2 linked regions of the Homo sapiens genome follow. The protein of the gene in region 2 interacts with the protein of the main gene of each other region in a biochemical or structural test. Each region holds a gene or a part of one and is shown on either strand. Other genes may lie near its edges.

Region 1 (7,814 bases), on a different chromosome or scaffold from region 2:
ACAGGTACAGAGATGCCCATGATTGGGGACCGAGTCTTTGTCCACTACACTGGCTGGCTATTAGATGGCACAAAGTTTGACTCCAGTCTGGATCGCAAGGACAAATTCTCCTTTGACCTGGGAAAAGGTAGGCGTGGTCAGTGGGCTGGTAGGATAGGTTCGAGGTGGACACAAGCTGTCACAAGCAGAAACCATTTTCTCAGGACCAAGCTCAGGGAGGAATGGTTTATCACAGTCTGTTAACTCTTTCGGTCACTCTTTTTTTTTTTTTTCTACCGTTCTGTAACTATATTGATCTCTGTCTCCCCTTCTCCTCATCACCTCCCAACACCTTACTCCCCCTTCAAAGGTGGACTGTCTTGCATCTTAAACTCTTTTGTTCAGGGTCACGTGATCTTTTACAGTTCTTAGACCTGGTAGCACTTAATACAACCAGGTACCTCACCTTCTGGTCCCATTTCTAAAGGATGTCCAGCTTCCCCATGAGTGTGGTGCAGTAACTCTTCAGGAGCACTGTTTGAGCCCAGAATCAGAACCCTGCTAAGGCGGTCCTGTTTGCTTCTGTACCTGCAGGGGAGGTCATCAAGGCTTGGGACATTGCCATAGCCACCATGAAGGTGGGGGAGGTGTGCCACATCACCTGCAAACCAGAATATGCCTACGGTTCAGCAGGCAGTCCTCCAAAGATTCCCCCCAATGCCACGCTTGTATTTGAGGTGAGTGTTTGGTCACTGAGATCCAGGCTAAGAGCCAGGCCTTATCTCAGCCCAATGCCTGGCTGCCCTCCAGCCCTTCCTGCTTCTTGGAGACAATGTAGCCAAGGCTGAGGGTCTGGCCTTATGGGAGGAGAAATGCAGAGGGCTCTGCTGCTGCTAGTAATGGAAGTAATAGAAGCTTCGGGTGGGAAGAGGCAGGCACAAGCCCCTCTCCAGACTCAAAGCATGGTCAGGGTTAAGGCATCTTTATCTCCAGAGCGGTACCCAGAAGAATACTGAAAGGAGTCGGGATGTCAGAAACTATGTCCCGTTATAAATGGCAGTACAGAATATTGGTGCTCTAGAGACCAGAAGAGGGAGCAGTAGCTCCCCTGTGGGTCAAGGGCTGAGAAAAGGCTTCACTGAGGAGATAGAACTTGACATTGTTCAATCTGAAAATGGTTGAGCCAATCCGTGGGCCCTTGAATACTGAGAAACTGCTGAGAGATGTTGGGTAATCATTTCTAATACCTACCAGGTTGGGCTTATCAGGTAGTGTGAATTAGGATTATCTGGGACGCGTCCTGATATGTCCGTGTTAGTAGAGCAGGTAGCAAATAGATTGCTCTCCTCAGCTTAACTGAAATCTATGTAGTCTGCCCACCTCTACCAAAGTTGAGATTAGGGCAGCTCCCAAGAACTGAAAAAAAGTGCCACTCTACCCAACTCCTTGTGACTGCCCTTGTGGTCAGATCCGGCCTGGCAGTTAGTAGGGACTCTCTCGGATGAGAAAGATTGTGTTTCACTGCCCATGAGTTAGCATGGGAAGGAATTGTGTCACATCTTGTCCCACAGGTGGAGTTGTTTGAGTTTAAGGGAGAAGATCTGACGGAAGAGGAAGATGGCGGAATCATTCGCAGAATACAGACTCGCGGTGAAGGCTATGCTAAGCCCAATGAGGGTGCTATCGTGGAGGGTGAGACAGTACAGTCTGGGCTTTCAATTCTCATTCTGATATTTAGGCCTTGTGTGGCTTTGGGCAAGACACTTCCGTTCTCCGAGCCTATCTTCTTGTCCATAAAATGAGGGGTTGGACCATATTCTCTTCATATCACTCCAGATTTGAGAACACAGGAGAATCTTGGGATGATGGGGGTGATGCAGGGAGGCTGATGGCATCCTTCCTCAGTCACCTGCCCTCTTACAACTCTGGTACACTGCCTCTCTTTCATGCCAGTTGCACTGGAAGGGTACTACAAGGACAAGCTCTTTGACCAGCGGGAGCTCCGCTTTGAGATTGGCGAGGGGGAGAACCTGGATCTGCCTTATGGTCTGGAGAGGGCCATTCAGCGCATGGAGAAAGGAGAACATTCCATCGTGTACCTCAAGCCCAGGTGAGGGGTGGGCACTTCGTAGGGTAGGCAGGCAGGCAAACCAAGATCAAAGATATAAAATGAATTGTAGAACCAGCTGTTTGTATCCTTTTTAACTCTGGCCACACCAAACATACACCATTATGATATCCTCAGTGTACTTAGAAGTATGGCCCAATTGTCTACATCTCCTTGGATCTAAGCCCAGTCTTTTCAGTCATAGTTGCTACAGATTCTCTCCTCTGCCATCAAGATTTTCCTCTCCCATTAATTCATTTCAGTCATTACTGAAACAGCTACTACATGCCAGGCACTGCTGAAAATTCCTATAGGGCTTCAGAGACTAATAGAACATTGTTTCTGCCTTCTAATTCTAGCTCATTGTTTAGTGAGGTGCTATTTAAATTAGTAATCACACTGCTGCCTGGCTGTAAGTTATTAGAAGGGTATGAAGGATGCTGAGGGACCATCTGACAGTGTGAAGAGGCCAGGGAAGATTTGCCAAACATTTGAACCAAGTCTCAAGGGATGGGAAGGTACTTTCCAGGAAATGGACAGGAAGCCTTTTCAGCCTGGAGCAGGTTAAGTGTTGCCAAGATGATACATAGTGTTTTTCACCCCTCCAGCTATGCTTTTGGCAGTGTTGGGAAGGAAAAGTTCCAAATCCCACCAAATGCTGAGCTGAAATATGAATTACACCTCAAGAGTTTTGAAAAGGTAAGTTTGCTCAGGGTCTTCCCATCTAAAGTCAAGTTCCACCCTGTACGTGACTCTGGGGTAGCTGACAACTTTGTTTCTCTCCTGGGGTGTGGCAGGCCAAGGAGTCTTGGGAGATGAATTCAGAAGAGAAGCTGGAACAGAGCACCATAGTGAAAGAGCGGGGCACTGTGTACTTCAAGGTGAGCCAACAGTCATTGTCCTAAGGACACTCCCAGGAAGAGTTGCTCTGAGCCTCCCCTTCCCTTGGTGACTGAGATCATTTTCTGCCAAGAAGTGGACAGGTTGGCACCTGCCATCTTCACTTCATATATGTGAGCTTGCTGGCCTTGCCAGTGGGAAGGGTGGGAGCAGGAACCTCTTGTGGCCATGTGTCACTGATGTCTGCAGGGTATAAGAGCCTAGTACCACTGAAACTGTGCCAGGTGCCTGAGCCTCTCTCCCATTCCAGGAAGGTAAATACAAGCAAGCTTTACTACAGTATAAGAAGATCGTGTCTTGGCTGGAATATGAGTCTAGTTTTTCCAATGAGGAAGCACAGAAAGCACAGGCCCTTCGACTGGCCTCTCACCTCAACCTGGCCATGTGTCATCTGAAACTACAGGCCTTCTCTGCTGCCATTGAAAGCTGTAACAAGGTGAGGCCCCCTCAGAGGTCATGGAAGCAGCATTCACAGGCAGAGTTGGGTGAGCTGCCAGCATGTCTGAAACTTCCCCTTGGTGACTAGGGCAGGGATAGCAGGGTGGATCAGTGGGAGCTCTGAGGTTACAGACCAAAGGCACGGATGCAAGTATTCATAGCAAGAACCTTAGCTTTGGTGGGAAGCAGTTGGCAAGAAGGAGGAGGACACGGAATGGGAAGAATCACATAAAGAGTTTTCTTCCACCTTGGTTCTTAGCCTCTCCGCTTACCTACTTGCTTTATTCTAAAGTGAATGTTAATGTCTGAAGTCTTTATTTCATCCAAAGACCTGCTGTCTTCCCTCTCTGCCTGTTGGATTAAATGAGGTCCCTGGATTGTTCCATTTAATGCCTCAGGCCTTGTTCTTCCTGGGGTGCAGCCAGCCACTTGCATTCCTCCTCATCCTCCTGAGGGGTACCTTTGGAACCCAGTCTAGGCCAGATGAGCTACAAGCCCTGAGCTCCCACAATGTGGCTTCCTCTCTGCATTCTTTAGGCCCTAGAACTGGACAGCAACAACGAGAAGGGCCTCTTCCGCCGGGGAGAGGCCCACCTGGCCGTGAATGACTTTGAACTGGCACGGGCTGATTTCCAGAAGGTCCTGCAGCTCTACCCCAACAACAAAGCCGCCAAGACCCAGCTGGCTGTGTGCCAGCAGCGGATCCGAAGGCAGCTTGCCCGGGAGAAGAAGCTCTATGCCAATATGTTTGAGAGGCTGGCTGAGGAGGAGAACAAGGTGAGGATTGGGGTGGGGAACAGTTGGAATAGCATCCCTCCACTTAACCTGGCTACTGTGGGCTCTTTGTGCCTTTGGTTGTCTGTGCCAATCCCGGAAACCAGAAGTTGCCTTTTCCCTGGAGCATTAAGGAGCACGTGTTCCTGCTGTTGGGGCCAGTGTTCTGTGATCAGTGCGGGAAACCTACCCACAAGCCCCAGAAGTTGGGTTGGTTGCCCTGAGTGTAATTCCCGATTTATGTTTTCTTGTGGGCCAGGCGCCGTGGCTCACACCTGCAATCCCAGCACTTTGCAGAGCCAAAGTGGGAGGATCACTTGAACCCAGTAGGTAGAGACCTCAGTGACTTAGGATGGCACCACTGCACCCCAGCCTGAGTGACAAAATGAAACCCCATCTCAAAAAAAGAAAAGCGAGATGCTTTTTGTGTGTGATTAAATAAATAATACACTTAGTTAAATTCAAACTGTACCAAAGTATACAGTCAAGTCTGCCTCCCCCACCAGAAGCAGCTGCCCCTTCAGGGTCTTGGATGGTCCAGTGTATTGCGTCAAGGCACAGGCAGACGTTCCTGTTGCTTCCTCCCTTTCCCCTAACACAGGCAACGTGCTCCACCTATGATTTGGCGCATACTATGCTTTTTTCACGTAATAGTAGCTGGAGGCTTATTTTACATCCGTATTTAAAGAACTTTTACATTCTTTCTTAGGCTTACATTGTATTCCATTGTATGGATATGGCTTGTCTTAGTCAATCAGTCCCTTTTTAGTCTTCCAGTGGTTTTATTTTTTTTCTTTTTCTGAGACAGAGTTTCGTTCTTGTTGCCCAGGCTGGAGTGCAATGGCATGATCTTGGCTCACTGCAAACTCCACCTCCTGGGTTCAAGCGATTCTCCTGCCTCGGCCTCCCGAGTAGCTGGGATTACAGGCGCCCGCCACCACACCCGGCTAATTTTTGTATTTTTAGTACAGACGAAGTTTCATCATGTTGACCAGGCTCTCGAACTCCTGACTTTAGTGATCTGCCCACCCCTGCCTCCCAAAGTGGTGGGATTACAGGTGTGAGCCACCACACCCAGCCAGTCTTAAACAGTGTTCTAAACCAGCACTGTCCAGTAGAAATACAGTATCAACCACATGTAATTCAAAATTTTCTGGTAACCATGTTAAAAAGGTGAAAAACAAATGGAATTAAATTTTAGTTGCATTTGTGTATTTTTCAAACCATCTTCAAAATCCAATGTATATTTTGCACTAAAAACACGAGTTTGAACTAGCCACTTACAGTAGTGGCTACCATACGGGACAGTGCTGCTTAGAACAGCATTGCAGTGAATAACCTCATGAGTTCATAATTTGTACATATACAAGTGTTCTGTTTTGTTTTGTTTGAGACAGTGTCTCTTGCCCTGCCGCCCAGGCTGGAGTGCAGTGGCACAGTCTCAGTTCACTGTAACCTCTGCCTCCAGGGCTCAAGTGATCCTCTTGTCTCAGCCTCCCGAGTAGCTGGGACTACAGGTGCATGCCACCACGCCCAGGTAATTTTTGTAATTTTTGTTGAGATGAGGTTTCACCATGTTGCCCAGGCTGATCTCAAACTTCTGGGCTCAAGCAATCTGACCACCTCAGCCTCCCAAAGTGCTGGGATTACAGGCATAAGCCACCAGGCTTGGCCTATACAGGTATAGCTTTAGGACAGATGTAGGAGAATGGGTGTATCTGTGTAATTCTGCTGGAAATTAAGTGTGTGTTTTTTCACTTGGGAAGTCAGCCCGTTTGCTGTTCATCTTCCTTGCAGGCCAAGGCAGAGGCTTCCTCAGGAGACCATCCCACTGACACAGAGATGAAGGAGGAGCAGAAGAGCAACACGGCAGGGAGCCAGTCTCAGGTGGAGACAGAAGCATAGCCCCTCTCCACCAGCCCTACTCCTGCGGCTGCCTGCCCCCCAGTCTCCCCACTCCACCCTGTTAGTTTTGTAAAAACTGAAGAATTTTGAGTGAATTAGACCTTTATTTTTCTATCTGGTTGGATGGTGGCTTTAGGGGAAGGGGGAAAGGTGTAGGCTGGGGGATTGAGGTGGGGAATCATTTTAGCTGGTGTCAGCCCCTCTTCCCTTCCTCCATTGCACATGAACATATGTCCATCCATATATATTCATCAGAATGTTAATTTATTTTGCTCCCTCTGTTAGGTCCATTTTCTAAGGGTAGAAGAGGCAAGTGGTAGGGATGAGGTCTGATAAGAACCCAGGGTGGAGAGGGAGACTCCTGGGCAGCCGTTTTCCTCATCCTTTCCCTCTCCCAGTCCATTTCCAAATGTGGCCTCCATGTGGGTGCTAGGGACATGGGAAAAACCACTGCTATGCCATTTCTTCTCTCTGTTCCCTTCCTCACCCCCGACGGTGTGGCTGATGATGTCTTCTGGTGTCATGGTGACCACCCCCTGTTCCCTGTTCTGGTATTTCCCCTGTCAGTTTCCCCTCTCGGCCAGGTTGTGTCCCAAAATCCCCTCAGCCTCTTCTCTGCACGTTGCTGAAGGTCCAGGCTTGCCTCAAGTTCCATGCTTGAGCAATAAAGTGGAAACAATAAAACCTGGGTGTCAGACAACCCTTTCTGTTCAGCCTTGGAGTGGTGGGTATGGGTGGGTACATAATGGGTAGTAGCACAATCAAGGGGTCACCCACTTAGTTCCAGTTGAGCTTAAATAAGTGAGCATCTCATGTAGATGCCATAGTTGGGCAGGAAGCAGCCCCACCATGCATGGCTTCCTGAGCACTGCACAGGCTGCCGCTGGGATTTGTGTCTATGGCTTCGCCCAAGGTTCCCAGCACTCCCTCCCTCCAGCAACCTGGCAGTTTTAGTGCCTCTGGTTTTCTTCCCTGACACTTAGGAAGACGAAAGTATAAAGATCTAGAAGACTGGGACACCATGCATGTTCATTTTGAAGTTGGAATTGGTCTTCTGCCTACCTCTGATCTGGCAGAGGTATCTGCATTTTGGTTTGTTAACAAGGTAAAACTCCTGGTGTCACTGACCTCCTCCTGTCAGATAACTTACATGATTAAGGTTAAGAGTAAAGCAGAGTGTTCACGTCCAGCTTCCTTCTCAGCCTTAACAGGAAAAGGCTTGTGCTTTTTTTCTAACTATGCTTTGACCCTTAACTCCTATGGCATGATGGGGCCCTGGGAGAAGCCAGGCAGCACAAGCCAGTCATGCTGAGCTGCCTCCAGATAATCCTGGCTCCAGGCCAGAGCCCGTGTCTGCCCTCATCCCTCTCTCCTACTGTGAGCTCTCCAGTCCTTTCCCAACAGCGATGTGGTTGTCTGCTTAGCCACATGCCTGTATAGTTCCTTCCAGAAGAAATGTATAATGGTGGAAGATGTATTTCTGTGTGAAAATTTTCACCAAGTCATACAACACAGCTGATGCTGGAGCCAGGATTAAAATTGGGGTGTACAAGTCTCCCAGTGTGAGTATCCCTTGAGCCCAAGACACCAAGGATGCAGAGAACTGTGACTGTGCCACTGCACGCCAGCCTGGGCAAGAGAGTGAGACCATCTCTTTTTTAAAAAAGTCCCTGTGTAACTGCTTTCTTACTGGGCTTACCTCACATCACAG
Region 2 (8,767 bases):
TCGAGACCAGCCTGACTCACATGATGAAACCCCATCTCTACTAAAAATACAAAAATTAGCGTGCCTGTAATCCCAGCTACTCAAGAGGATGAGGCAGGAGAATCGCTAGAACCTGTGGGGGTGGAGATTGCAGTGAGCCAGGATTGCACCAGTGCACTCCAGCCTGGGTGACAGAGCAAGGCTCCATCTCAGAAAAAAAAAAAAAAAAAAAAGTGCATTAGTGGAAGAAAAATTAACTAGTGACACTATGTTCACTCAGTGGAATATGACTCAGACATTAAAAATTAAGGCCATATAATAGTATGGATGGCGGGCACAGTGGCTCATGCCTGTAATCCTAGCTTTGGGAGGCTGAGGTGGGCGGATCACGAGGTCAGATCGGGACCATCCTGGCTAACACGGTGAAACCCGCCTCTACTAAAAATGCAAAAAATTAGCCCGGCATGGTGTCTGGCGCCTGTAGTCCAGCTACTGGAGAGGCTGAGGCAGGAGAATGGCGTGAACCCGGGAGGCGGAGCTTGCAGTGAAGCAAGATGGCACCACTGCACTCCAGCCTGGGCGACAGAGCCAGACTCGGTCTCAAAATAAAATAAAATATAATAAAATATAATAAAATAAAAAATAGTATGGACAATGCTTATTATAATAAAATATTATTACAATTATGTAAAACCAAGACACTATATGAAAAAAAGAAAAGCCTGCAAAGAAATACACCAAAGCAATTTTTAACAGTGATTGCCTTTAGAAATGGAATTAGGGATGATTTTTTAAAATTCCTTCTATTTCTCTGATGTTTCTGTAATGAATACATATGATTTTTCAGATGGGAAACAAATTCAATAAATTGTATATTTTTAACTGTCCAGTTGATGCATTCCAAGAAGGTAAAGTAACAAAATCCAAATAAATGTACAGCATACCCATAAACTCAAATCACCCAACCTATTCCTTAAGATCGGAATTGTGGTTGTATGAGAATATTTAGGAAGGTCAAGATCTTCCCCTTTAAAGGTGATTTAAGATAAACCAAAGATGCTAGCTAATATGTCCATATAACCAAATACAAGCTAATTTGTTTTGTTTTGTTTTGTTTTTTGAGATGGAGTCTGGCTCTATCACCCAGGCTGGAGTTCAGTGGCGTGATCTCAGCTCACTGCAACCTTGACTTCCAAGGTTCAAGCGATTCTCCCACTTCAGCCTCCTGAGTAGCTGGGATTATAGGTGCACACCACCATGCCCAGCTAATTTTTGTATTTTTTCATTTTGTAGAGGTGGGGTTTGTAGAGATGTTGGCCAGGCTGGTCTCGAACTCCTGACCTCAAGTGATCCACCTGCCTTGGCCTCCCAAAGTGCTGGGATTACAGGCATGAGCCACGGTGCCCGGCCACAAGTTAATTTAAATGAGATGTTTAACTGAATTTTTAAAAGTCAGATTATAAGGCTGGTGTGATGGCTCAGGCTGCAATCCCAGCACTTTGGGAGGCCAAGGCAGGAGGATTGCTTTAGCCCAGGAGTTCAACACCAGCCTGGGCAACATAGGAAGGGCCCGTCTCTATTAAAAATAAATAAATAAATGTCGGATTATGTATTTTCTGGTATTTTTCCTTCTTTCTGAATCTTAAAATACATACAGAAAATTAGTCGGTCTCCAAAATTTTCCACAAGTGCACTAATTAGAATAAGTCCTGGAAACAGAGGATTTGTATAATAAAATTCTAATCAGGTAACATATTATGTGGTATATCTTCATTACCACTCAAGAAACTTTTATATACATAATATATTTCAAAATCAAAACTCAAACTACTTACTGGAATTGTTGAGGATGGAAACTGGCAGAGGAAATAGTCCCTGAAGTGGGATGAGCTACCTAGGATGTGAATTAAGGCAAATAAAGTAAAATATAGAAGGCCAGGCACGGTGGCTCATGCCTGTAATTCCAGCACTTTGGGAGGCTGAGGCAGGAGGATTACTTGAGCTCAGGAGTTCGAGACCAGCCTGGCCAACATGGTGAAACCCCATCTCTACTAAAAATACAAATTAGGCCGGGGGCGGTGGCTCACGTTTGTAATCCTAGCACTTTGGGAGGCCGAGGCGGATGGATCACCTGAGGTCGGGATTTCGAGACCAGCCTGACCAATATGGTGAAACCCCATCTCTACTAAAAATACAAAAATTAGCCAGGCGTGGTGGCGTTCATTTGTAATCCCAGCTACTGGAGAGGCTAAGACAGGAGAATTGCTTGAACCTGGGAGGTGGAGATTGCAGTGAGCTGAGATCAGGCCACTGCATTCCAGCCTGGGCAACAGAGAGAGACTCCATCTCAGAAAAAAAACTACCACCACTACTACTACTACTACTACTACTACTACTACTACTACTACTACTGCTACTACTACTACTACTAATAATAATAATACAAATTACACTTGGGAGGCTGAGGCAGGGGAATGGCTTGAACCTGGGAGGCGGAGGTTGCAGTGGGCCGACATTGCAGAGTGCGGCACTGCACTCCAGCCTGACCACAGAGCAAGACTCCGTCTCAAAAATAATAATAATAATAATAATAATAATAATAATAATAATAATAACAACAATAACAACAACAACATAAATTCGCCTGGCATCGTGGCGCAACCCTGTAGTCCCAACTACTTAGGAGGCTGAGGTGGAAGGATCTCTTGAGCCCAGGAGTGAGCCGAGATCGTACCACTACTGCACTCCAGCCTGGGTGACAGAGTGAGGCCCTGTTTCAAAAAAAAAAAAAAACCAAAAAAGCAAAACCCTAGAAATTCCTTTTAAAGATCTCCTTTCTATCCGGTAACTGCAGAGAGTTGACATAGAATTGCATTGTTTCTTTAGCTTAATCGGTTACTTTCGGAATGTCACTCTCATCAATTAACATGTTATCCTTTCTTTCTCTCTGTTTCTCTCTTTTGGAACGCACTGGCCATCACGGCTCACTGTAACCCTGGACTCCTGGCCTTGGCCCCCAGAAGAGCCGAGACAACAGGCAAGGCGTGTGCCGCCGCGCCAGTCCTCACCCGCTGTCCTTCCCCAAATAGTGTCTTTATATAACTCAGTGGCAATGCCGTAGTCCAGCAGGGAGGCCGCCCTGGGCAGCGCCTGCCTGGCCAGCTCCTGCCCGGGAGGGCACCGTCCTCTCCCCTCCGGAGAGGTCCCGGTCACTGCCTGCCTGGGCCGGTTCCAGGCAGCCCTGCGCGCCTGTGCACCGTGCGCCTGTGATTGGACATCTCTGGGTCTCTGGACAGCTGCCGGGGTCACGCGCCGCCGGTGAAACGACGTCTCCACAAAGAGAGGAGCAGAGGCCCCCAGGGATCCCGGAGGGCAGGGCAACGCGGCAATTGCCCCGACCCCAGGGCGGCCGCGCGTGTCCTCGGGGGACGCAGCCTCTTCCCCGCTCCCCGGCTCCTGGAAGAGACGCGACCCAGGCGGGGACGCGGCGCTGAGCGAGGAGGCGCTGGGGCTGCGAAGCGTGCGACCCCGAGGCCTCCACCCGGACCAGGGCCACCACTCAGGCGGCGGCGCCGGCGCCGGATCCAGCCCGAGCCCCGCGCAGCCCAAAGGATACGACAGCCCCGGCCGAGGGGCGGCCGAGGTGGCCCAGAACAATCTGCAGACGGGCGGCGGCGCGAAGCTGCTCCATGGCTGCGGCGCGGGGAACCCCCACCCCTCCCGGCCTCTGCCCCATTTAGCCCAGCGGGCGGCTCCGCCTCCAGGCGCCGCCCCGGACTGGACGTAAGCGGGATTCCGGGCGGTGCCAGCTCGCGGGCCGGGCTGCTGGGGAGCCCTAGTCCGCTAGAGTCCGCGCGCCGGGCAACCGCCCGGGGCTGAAGTCCTCCCCACACCATGATCCTTCCGTCCTTTATTTTCTTTCTTTTTAAAAAGAAACAAGATCTTGCTCTGTCGCCCAGGCTGGAGTGCAGTGCGCGATCATAGCTCACTGCAGCCTTGAACTCTTGGGCTAATTTTTATTTTTTGTAGAGATGGGGTCTCGCTACGTTGCCCAGGTGGGTCTCAAACTCCCCCCGCCTCCCGTCTCGACCTCCCAAAGTGCTGGGACTACAGGCGTGAGTCATTACCCCTGCCCCGCACCCTGTTTCTGTTCCATCACCAGGACCCTCCCTGCCGCACCGAAGCTCGGGGGCCCAGTGACCAGGCCGAGGTCACACAGTGACAAGTGGCTGGGCTGGGACCTCACTCACTCTCCTAACGTCATGGCTTCCATCTGTTTAACCCTACGTGACTGCTCCTTCCACTGACAGCTGAAAGAATAAAATCTCCGATTTAAACAAAAAGTTTGCCGGGCGCGGTGGCTCACGCCTGTAATCCCAGCACTTTGGGAGGCCAAGGCAGGCGGATCACGGGGTCAGGAGTTCGAGACCAGCCTGGCCAACTTGGTGAAAACCCGTCTCTACTAAAGATACAAAAATTAGCTGAGTGTTGTGGCGCACGCCTGTAATCCCAGCTACTGGGGAGGCTGAGGCAAGAGAATCACTTGCAACCGGGAGGCGGAGGATGCAGTCAGCGAGATGGCGCCACTGCATTCCAGCCTGGGTGACAGGGCAAGACTCCGTCTCTAAACAAACAAACAAACAAACAAACAGGTTTTTAGCCGGGTGCGGTGGCTCACGCCCGTAACTCCAACACTTTGGGAGGCCGAGGCAGGAGGATCGCTTGAGCTCAGGATCGCTATAGATCGAAAGCAGCCTGGGTAACATAGTGAGAACACCTGATCTACAAAAAAATTAGCCGGGCGTCGTGGCGGGCGCCTGTAGTCCCAGCTACTCAGGAGGCTGAGGCAGGAGAACGGTGTAAACCCAGGAGGCGGACCTTGCAGTGAGCGAGATGGCGCCACCGCACTCCAGCCTGGGCGACAGAGCAAGACTCCGTCTCAAAAAAAATAAAAAATAAATCAATAAATTAAATAAATAAAAATTCCAGACATTGTATGAGGAAGCATTGCAAAACTTTCTGTTCTGTTAGCTGTTGCCTGTAGCCCCCAGTCATGTTCCCCACGCTTGCTCGATCTCTCACTAAACTTTCACGTAGACCCTTAGAGTTACAAGCCCTTAAAAGGGCCAAGAATTTCTTTTTCAGGGACCTCGGTTGCAAGTCTGCCGAAGTTCCCGGCCTAATACAGCCCTTCTTTAATCCGGTGTCTGAGTTTTGTCTGCGGCTCGTCCTGCTGCAGGAGGATCACCTGAGCCCGGGAGTTTGAAGTTGCAGTGAGCCCAGATCGTGCCTCTGCACTCCAGCCTGGGCGACAGAGTGAGGCCATGTCCAAAAAACACAAAAACAAAAAACAAACAAAACTCCAAAACATCAATGAAGTTTTGAAAATAAAAATAAAAAAATAAAAATGCTAAGATGCATCCCTAAAAGTCATATGTGCCATTCAAAAGGGGTATTTCATTTAGTGGGACTCCAGCCCAAAATATTAGAAAGTTCGGTTGGTCATAAAAAAAAAAAAAGTGAATAAAATAAATGACCTCCAGAAAAGTCTGATGCACACAGGCCAGTATGGTGTAAATTTCTTAGATAACTCCAGCATCTCTTTGTAAGATTTATTTTCCATTCCATAACTACGGATATTGACATAGCATCTCATTGTTTCTTTAGTTTCATTTTTTCATTGATTTTTTGTTCTTTTTTAGCTTCGAGTTACTTCCAGAACGTCGCAGCACACGTTATCACTTCCTGCATGACGTCTTTATAGAATTTGGTGACAATGTCGCAGTCCAGGAGGGAGGCCCGCAGCCAGCATCACCAGCCCCTTCCTGTTTGCACAGGCAGGGAGGAGAACGGCAGCTCCCAGGCTTCCACTGGGGAGTCCCTCCGGCTTTCTCCGGGATTCCGCCCGCCCCAGGGTCTCAGACCAACAGAAGGACCCGGGATCCCTCAGCAGCTCCGGACCTCATCTGCCCCACTTCGGCATCCCGCGCGGGAATATGACCATGTAGGAGTAACCCGGGGCTCTCAAGGACTCTACGGTTTGTCACGGTTTGAACGCAAGCGCAGGGCCTGGGGCGGGTGCAGGTGGAGGGTCGGCCTCTTTCTGCCCTTGGGAACGCCCCTTTCTGGATGTGGACCGGCGAGGCGGTCTCTCCTTTCTGCCCTCGCCTGGTGAAATGTGGGCACTGCTGCCAGGAGAAAAAAAACTGAAGCTGTGAATTCAGTTCATCACCCTTCCCTTGTTTATTAAAAAATCGGACCTTGGCCGGGCGCGGTGGCTCACGCCTGTAATCCCAGCACTTTGGGAGGCCGAGGCAGGCAGATTAGGAGGTCAGGAGATCGAGACCATCTTGGTTAACACGGTGAAGCCCGGTCTCTACTAAAAATACAAAAAAGTTAGCAGGGTGGTGGCGGTCGCCTGTTGTCCCAGCTGCTCGGGAGGCTGAGGCAGGAGAATGGCGTGAACCCGGGAGGCGGAGCTTGCAGTGAGCCGAGGTCGTGCCACTGCACTCCAGCCTGGGTGAAAAAATAAAAAAAAAAAAAGATCAGGACCTTTACCCGCGCTGACGGTGATTGGTTTTCATGACCAATAAAGAAATTCGAATGAGATGAAGCTACTTACACCTGTGTTTTTACTGTTCCTTTAAAATGCCCTAATTTCACAACCATGTGAAAATTCCTGCCATCTCTCCCCCAAGGCATTTATACAAGGATGTACTTAGATATTTAGATGTATTTAAATTTATGCTTTTCTTTTCTTTTTTTTTTTTTTTTGAGACGGAGTCTGACTCTGTTTCCCAGGCTGGAGTGCAGGGCGTGATCTCGGCTCACTGCGACCTCTGCCTTCCGGGTTCAAGAGATTCTCCTGACTCAGCCTCCTGAGTAGCTGGGATTACAGGCGCGCCATCAAGCTCAGCTAATTTTTTGTATTTTTAGTAGAGCCAGTTTCACCATTTTGGCCAGGCTGGTCTCGAACTCATGACCTCAAGTGATCCGCCCGCCTCAACCTCCCAAAGTGCTGGGATTACAGGCGTAAACCACCGCACCCGGCCCAAACTGATGCTTTTTACCGACAGATGAAGGAAATTCTTAAATGCTCACAATTGTTATCTGCCTTTTTAAAATTAGAGGGATGCTGGGTTTAACATTTTTCATTTAAGATCCCACGGAGAATTAACATAATAATTTCTCCGTAGGTAAAGAGGTAATTTGATGAATGTTACTAGTTTTCTTTCAAATAGCTATTTGGATTATTGGAAAATTCCCTAAGTAGGCATCTTTAATAATTATGTTATTAAAATAAAAATATTTTAGAACAATTGAAGCAGAACATTAATGGAATGTAAACATTATCACAAGAATGAAAAGTTCTTTCCCCTTTGGTATTAGGCATTTATTCATTTCTTATTAAAGTTGACCTTTTGAAGATTACTTCAAAATTAGCTTCCCCCCACTTCCAGTAATGTGCTTGGTTACTTACGTATTGAAAGTAACCTTGCAGACAAGTTTTGAAACACAATTTTCAAAATGATCTAAGGAATAGTTTTCCCCATATATATAAATTAAATGATTTGTTAAATAATAGCCATATTTGAACAGCTAAGTAAAATGTTTGAGTTTTAAAATCTTGGATTAAATTGTTCAAACTGGCTAGGGGAAGTGGGTCACGCCTGTAATCCCAGCACTTTGAGAGGCTGAGGCAGGTGGATCACCTGAGGTCAGGAGCTCCAGACCAGTCTGGCTAACATGTTAAAAACCCGTCTCTACTAAAAGTACCAAAAAAAAAAAAAAAAAAATTAGCTGGGCGTGGTGGCACATGCCTGTAATCCCAGCTACTCAGGAGGCCGGGGCAGGAGAATCGCTTGAACCCGGGAGGTGGAGGTTGCAGTGAGCCGAGATAGCGTCATTGCACTCCAGCTTGGGCAACACGAGTGAAACTCCATCTCAAACAAAGAAACAAACACAAAAACGAAAACCAGAAAACAAACAAACAAACAAAAACCCCAGAAAATTAGCTGAGCGTGGCACACCTGTAGTACCAGCCACTTGAGAGGCTGATGTGGGAGGATCGCTTGAGCCCAGGAGGTGGAGGTTGAAGTGAGCCAATATTGTGCCACTGCACTCCAGCCTGGGCGACAGAGCAAGACTGTGTTTCAAAAACAAAATAATAAATTAAATAAATAAATAAATAGTTGAAGCCAAGCATGGTGGCTCCCGCCTGTAATGTCAGCACTTTGGCAGGTCGAGGCAGAGGATTGCTTGAACCAAGAGGCTCGAGACCAGCCTGGGCAACATAGCAAGACTTCGCCTCTACAAAAAATTTTAAAAAGAAATAGCGGGGTGCAGTGGCGCACGTGTAGTCCTAGCTACTCCAGAGTCTGAGGCAGGAGGATTGCTTGAGCTCAGGGTTCTAGGCTGCAGTGAGCCATGATCCCCTACTGTACTCCAGCCTGAGTGATAGAGATCCTATCTCTAAAATTTATTTTAAAAAGTTTAAAAAGTTAGCTGGGTGTGGTGGCTTATGCCTGTAATCCAGCATTTTGGGAGGCTGAGGCGGGTGGATCACAAGGTCAGGAGTTTGAGACCAGCCTGGCCAAAATGGTGAAACCCTGTCTCTACTAAAAAAATAAAAAAATTAGCCAGGCATGGTGGTGGGCGCCTGTGGTCCCAGCTACTCAGGAGGCTGAGGCAGGAGAATCGCTTGAACCCGGGAGGCAAATGTTGCAGTGAGGTGAGACTGCACCACCGTATTCCAGCCTGGGCAACAGAGAGAGATTCCAAAAATAAT

The links. The genes of interacting proteins can lie anywhere in the genome.
Region 1: the proteins of PHYH (region 2) and FKBP4 form a complex in vitro, tested with the Homo sapiens proteins (one study listed by BioGRID).

The regions. Positions count from the first base shown.
Region 1 is NC_000012.12:2,797,156-2,804,969, forward strand, and holds part of FKBP4 (peptidyl-prolyl cis-trans isomerase FKBP4), read left to right. Parts: coding exon 1-127; intron 128-573; coding exon 574-716; intron 717-1,550; coding exon 1,551-1,671; intron 1,672-1,932; coding exon 1,933-2,089; intron 2,090-2,694; coding exon 2,695-2,785; intron 2,786-2,883; coding exon 2,884-2,967; intron 2,968-3,236; coding exon 3,237-3,422; intron 3,423-3,961; coding exon 3,962-4,201; intron 4,202-5,995; coding exon 5,996-6,103; 3' UTR 6,104-7,814. UniProt on the Homo sapiens protein: Immunophilin protein with PPIase and co-chaperone activities. Component of steroid receptors heterocomplexes through interaction with heat-shock protein 90 (HSP90).
Region 2 is NC_000010.11:13,296,373-13,305,139, forward strand, and holds the start of PHYH (phytanoyl-CoA dioxygenase, peroxisomal isoform a precursor), read right to left. Parts: upstream 3,693-8,767; 5' UTR 3,671-3,692; coding exon 3,596-3,670; intron 3,392-3,595; exon of another isoform or gene 3,048-3,391; intron 1,874-3,047; coding exon 1,815-1,873; intron 1-1,814. UniProt on the Homo sapiens protein: Catalyzes the 2-hydroxylation of not only racemic phytanoyl-CoA and the isomers of 3-methylhexadecanoyl-CoA, but also a variety of other mono-branched 3-methylacyl-CoA esters (with a chain length of at least seven carbon atoms) and straight-chain acyl-CoA esters (with a chain length longer than four carbon atoms).